Regions from separate parts of the Homo sapiens genome. Here region 1 is linked to region 2. The links come from fine-mapping of genetic effects on gene expression. A gene starts in region 2. The other region holds a variant in brackets. All regions are shown on one strand. Distances are from middle to middle.

The links. PIP is the estimated chance that this variant, and not a neighbour inherited with it, causes the effect. A credible set is the group of variants that fine-mapping cannot tell apart.
Region 1: its variant is the best candidate, but not a certain one, in a credible set for the expression of SGMS1 in whole blood (INTERVAL, PIP 0.69).

Annotation. Positions count from the first base shown.
Region 1 is chr10:50,654,345-50,657,255 of GRCh38, reverse strand. No RefSeq gene overlaps it. Among named protein-coding and RNA genes, the nearest start is that of SGMS1-AS1, 31 kb to the right of the region's middle. The variant G/C (reference allele first, on the strand shown) is at 1,364.
Region 2 is chr10:50,622,580-50,625,490 of GRCh38, reverse strand. SGMS1 (sphingomyelin synthase 1) reads left to right here and starts at 1,535. Exons shown (of 11, transcript NM_147156.4): 1 at 1,535-1,784. SGMS1-AS1 (SGMS1 antisense RNA 1) reads right to left here and starts at 540. Exons shown (of 4, transcript NR_126411.1): 1 at 300-540. RefSeq lists silencers at 368-997, 1,122-1,279, 1,328-1,587, 1,848-2,187 and enhancers at 1,138-1,666, 2,378-2,777.

The DNA of each region.
Region 1 (2,911 bases), 32 kb before region 2:
AATAGTGTAAGTCTTCACATTATATTTTTTCTTCAAAGTTATCTATACACTGCATTTTCATTTGCATTTTATAGTCAGTTTTTCAGTTGCCACCAAATATAATGCAGACAAATTATGCTATTACTAATCACAGTATTGTGATTTTCAGTGTATTACAAATATAGATTTATTTAAAATACTGAATCTTTCTTCTAATACCAAGAATGACATAGGAACATGGTACACCTTTATTTCTGTTGAATATCTTTAATTTCTCTCAGTAAAATCTCACAATTTTCAGTAAAGGGATTGCATATGCTATGTTATATTTTATATTAGGAATTCAATGTTTCTTCCTGGAAACATTTCAGATTTTTAATATTTTATTTGATTTAGACTCACTATATTTGGAAAGCTTTAATTGTAATTTTATTTTTAATAGATATAGAGCTATTCGGATTTGCTATTTATTCTTGTGTCACTGTTAATGATTTTCTAGAAATGTATCTATTTCATCAAATTATGTCAAAATTTTTGACTTAAAGTTACTTATTACATTCTCTTTTTCTATCCCATGACTATAGAATCTATAATGATTTCCTTGTTATTATTGATGATATTTAGAATTTGTGGATACTCTTTTTTTTTTTAATTTCACGCATAATCATGGTATATTTTTATCAGTCTTTTCAAAGTAACTTTGGCTTTTGCTGATTTCATTTATTTTATGATTGTTTCCTTTTCTCATGCTTCTTATGTATCTTCTCTTTTCTAATTCTTTGGATTTAATTTGACATCACATTTTAAATTTTTGAGATTGACAATTAGATTATTAATTTTCAAGCTTTAATTTTTTAAACAAGCATATGCATTTATCTCCAAGCTGAGGTTTGCCTAAGCCTCCCATCTTTTAACAAGCAGTATTTTTACTTTCATTTTTATTAAATTCAAAATATATTTTAATATTCATTGTAATTACTTTTTTGATGCATGAATAACTTAGAAATGTGATGCTTAATTTCTAAACATTTGGTTACTTTCAAAGTCTTGCTATAGATTTGCAGCTTAATAACATTGTTGTACAAAAAAACACTGTCAAGGATTTCAAATTTTTGGTATTTATTGATTCTTGTTATGGGCCTAACCTCAGCCTATATCTGTCTATCTAACCTATCTATCTATCTATCTACCTACCTATCTATCTATCTATCTATCATCTATCTACCTAGATAGACAGAGATATCTATAGATAGCTATGGTAAATTTTGAAACACGTTCCAAATACATTATAATAAATTGTGTGTTTTGCTATTTTTGGGTGCAGTTTTTATATCAAAGTATTTAATCCTACTGCTTTAAATTTTTGTATTATTATTGATATTTT[G/C]TATCCTTTTTGCTATCAGTTATTGAAAAAGGTATATTAAAGTCTTTATGATCAAAGATGCGGCTATTGCTCCTTTTAGTTCTATAAAAATTGTAAATGTGTGTTAACTCTGTGTGAGTGAATATACATACACAAGTTTGACAACTTCCTCAATAGTTGATTCTTTTATATGGATGATGGATACATCTTCCTTTCAGGTAATAATTTCTGCCTTAAAATCTCTTTTGTCTGATATTAACATAGCTAAACAAATTTTCATTTGGCTTGTGTTTGATTACCTTTTATATGCATATATGAAAGGTTTTTAAATTAAGATAGTTCTATAGATAGAAGATAGAAGATATATAGATAGAAGATGGTAGATATCTTCTACAGATATAGATATGTATATGTATTTATATACATATATAGGTATATTAATATTTATATGTCTATATCTGTATACAAATATATATATGCAGATATCTATACATGTATATCTATATAAATATCTACATGCCGATATATATATCTATGTGTGTATATGATATCTATGTCAATGATGTAGGAAGAGTATTATGTCCAATATTTACCAGGAGTCATTTCAGATAAGCAAGAGGGTTCTGGTATACATTTTCTCTTCCTACTCACTAAGGATCTACCAAAGCAAATCATTTGTAGAACAAGGAAAGTTATAAAATTCTCTCTCTCTCTTTTTTTCTTAAGAAAACTGGGGAAAGCCCTTAGACTAGCTTGGCTAGGAGGATGGTTTCTGTTCATATATTTTCTGGTCTGGTTTTCTCTTCTGTCATTCATGGTTTTTGATTATTATATTCTAGGTCATTGACTCCTGGCCAATCATTTCGCAGTTGTGGGAAGGTCTCCATTGCTACCTATTCCAAGTTCACTCTATCCATGGTATCTTGTCTTTCATGCGTATGCTCTGTGAAATTTTGGCTTCTGGTTCTTCACCCCCATGGAACAGGTTCTGCTTTCCTTTCACTGTGTTCTCCTCAACTACTCCCTGTGCTGCTCAGCACTGTCTGTGCACCTTCTTCTGGGGCTGCTTGTCGCAAGAGGGGTTAATCCTTCTAGTGTTTGGAATTGGGGTTTGGAATCACTTCCAGATTGAGAGTGAGATGAAAAATAAAATATGTTGTGTACTAGGCAGAGGAAGTAATGGTACTTCCTGGAGGTGAGATGACATAAGGGTAGGGAACACTGGGATGCACTGCCCAGATGTCTCTTCAGGAAAGACTTATTCTCCTTTAGGAAAGACCAAGTCTCCTGAGGACTTACTTTCCTTGCTGCTAGATGATAGCTCTCTGGGTCACTTCCGTTGGGGCATTGCCTTAGTTGCAGATAGACTCTTTGCCTGAGGTCACAGCCCCTGCCTTAGTTGCAGATAGACTCTTTGCCTGAGGTCACAGCCCCTGCTGGAGGCCCACAGCCAGTGGCTGATCGACAAGAGGTATGAAGGTTGAGACCTCTCTTGTCCCCAGTCAAGTCACCTTGGAAGGGTTATCTTATTTTTAGAACTCCCTGAAGGATCGCCTGAGGCTTTGAGGC
Region 2 (2,911 bases):
GGGTGATAGTGACGCGGCAGGTCCCGAGACAACAGGAAACCCAAGGGACTCGAGGCAGGCGCTCAATAAATATTCACTATGAACCTCAGCACCATCGAAGCGGCCCACCAGCAGGGGCCGCGGGGTATGCGCTGCAGGGAAGAGCACGGCCTCTGTCCAATGTCCCTGCCGGTACATCACTCCTCTGCAGGGACTAGGTTAGAACCGGGAGGCAGCCAGAGCAGCGCTCTCGCTGGATAACGGAAGAGGACTCCCTCGCCAACTTCCGCCTCTGGGGAAAAGCGGGGACCCTCCGCCACCTGAGTTCTGTTGTCTCGATTTCGCCGCAGTTTGCTTCTGGCCCGGGCGAGAACCTGTCCTCTGGGCAAGCCAGGGGTCGGTACAGGACTCCTATACCCCAAGGCGAGGCGGAGGCAGGTGCCGAGCGGTGGCCAGAGTCCGGCGCCCAAAGCCCGATGGGAGGGCGTGGCGGGGGAGGACGGTCCCGCCAGCTCCCAGGTCGGTTCCGAGCGCCCGCGGCCCGATGGCCGGGCGGAAGATGGCTGCCCGGAGCGCCGCGGACAGTCACGTGGTACGCCGGGCCCGTAGCCGCGCCCCTTCCCCCGCTCGCCAAGTCCCCGACCCCGCGGGAGGCACGGCCTCGGGCTGCCTGTAGGCCACCGAGGTGCGGCGCGGGCCGGCCAGGGACGGCGGGCATCGGGGCGGGAAGGCCAGCTCTCCCCGCTGTCCATCCTAACTTGGGCGCTGGGGCTTCGCTCGGGGAGCAGAGGAAAACCTTCCTTCAGGCGACTTGCACCACGTGGGGCTACTGGGCATGCGCGGGCTCCGACCCCGGCCTAGCCGCTCTCCGGGTTTTCGCCGCAGCTCGGAGGGGCGGCGGAAGGTGGGCCCCAGGCGGGGCGGGGCGGCTCTGACGCAGTCGGAGTTTTCACCTCGCGCGGTTAGAGCTCTTGCGCCTCCGTCGCGCTCCCAGGCGTCGCCAGAGGCTTTTTTTTTCTGTTGTGGGAGAAAGATGAGAGTCTATGGTTAGAGGTTTGAAAATGGGCCGAATAGTCAGGTCGGCCGTTTCCTAGGAATGATCCATTGGGCATTAATCCCAAGTGTCGCAGCCCTTGGGCTTGGTGGGAAAAAGAATCCAGTAGTAGTTCGCAAACTCGTGCCTGGCTTCCAGCAGGCTGAGTTTGCGTTCCCTGCTTTGTGACCAGCTCTAGCGGCTCCCGTCTCCGGCCCTGCCCCAAGGGATTTACCGTCCCAGATTGTAAAATCTGGCTCCCGCTAGGCCTTACTTAGTGGGCCCCTAAAAACGCTGGGGAAAGCGCCCGCCTCCTCAGTTTCCCATTACTTGAAAGTAAAATTCAAGGGGCCCAAACTGCGACTGTCCCTTGGTTCGGGGTCCCGCTCGGTCCCGGGAGGAGCCCCCCGCGGACCCCGCCCGGCCGGCCCGCCCCCCCGGCCGCAGTGAACACCCGGAGGAGCGGAGTCGCGTCGCGCGGGAAGCCGGGCCGGCTCGGGCAGCGGACTGGGCATGCTCGGCAGCCCGGGAGGCTCGCGGTGGCAAGTCGAAAGCGTTCGCACCAGCGGGGCAGCGGCTGCGGGCGGCAGGCGGCGGGCAGGTCGGGAGTGAGAAGGACCGGCCTGGGCTGACTGCTCTCCCCTCGCGCCTAGGGAGCCGGTCGGAGAGCGCGATTGGGGTGCGGAGCCCCGACGCTGCCCTGCCCCGGATTTCATTCCGCGGCGGGGGCTCCGCGAGCGGAATTCCGGCGGCTGCCGTGACTCCAGTGCAAGTGAGTCGTGGGGCAGGGACAGACAGCCGGCCTCACGGTTGCGGGGGCCGATCGGACACCTGTCTCGCGGGCCCGGCCTTATGCCGGGGAGCAGCGGGCGGGCTGCTCTGGGGCGAGGGGGCGTGAGCGCAGCCCGCGCGGTGCCGCGCGCGTACCTGGCGGGCAGTCCTCCAGAGCTGCTGCTCCCGTGGGTGGTCACAGCGGGGAGGTCCGGCGGCCGGGATCCGGGCTCGGAGGGGGCGGGCCGCCGGCGGGGCTCCCCGGCTAAGTTGGGGCGGGGAGGAAGGAGGAGGCGTCAGTGGGCACCTTTTCAGAGCTACTGCGTGCGGGCTGGAAGGCTGCCTGGTGTCGGATTGGGGCGATCGGGAGGCGGGGAGCCTTTGGGCAGTAGCCCGCCCGGGGTCCGGAGACCCCCACCCAGGGGCCGACTCCAATCACGGCTCCACCCCCACAGCCTAGGTGGCGGTGTGACAGTTGGTACCTTCGGTCCAGATCGCAGCCGGCCAGGCGCCCACTATTTCGGGATCCCCCCACCGTAGCCCCTCGATGCCCCCTGACGACAAAACAGGTGGGACCCCCCCTCCCCGAGGAGCGCTCCCCTTCTCTCCAGGCCGCGTAACAGCCCGCCAGGCTCGCGGGCGGCTCTGAGACCCCGCAGGGCTGCCCCCGCGGGGCGGGGACGTTTAGGGGCAAGGCCTGGAGGGGAATCGGCGCAGCCCAGAACTGGACAGTCTCTCCAGGACGCCGCTTTTCCGTGACAGAGGGGGTCTGCGCTATCCCCCAGCGACGTGTCAAGGGCAAAACAGCAGCAGCAGCGGCTGCCTCTCCCACCGTCTTAACCCGAACTCGGGCTTGTGGCGTCCTCCCGTGGGCCGGATAGAGTGCCCTAGTCCAGCTAACGGATTCAGCCTGGAGCGTTCTGGTGAATGCTGCTTTCCTCTTTGGTGCCGCGAAGTAGAAATCGGGATAAGGGTTGTCATGGCCGGAGGGAGCGAAGAGAATCCAGGCAGGTGCTTCTCAGATGTTTCTTTTCACCTTCAAACAGTACAGACTTCAGCGGTACACGCTTACGAAACCAAGTGAAGGCTGCTTTCTGAAAGGGAAGTTTATTTTCTATGTTCTGGGGC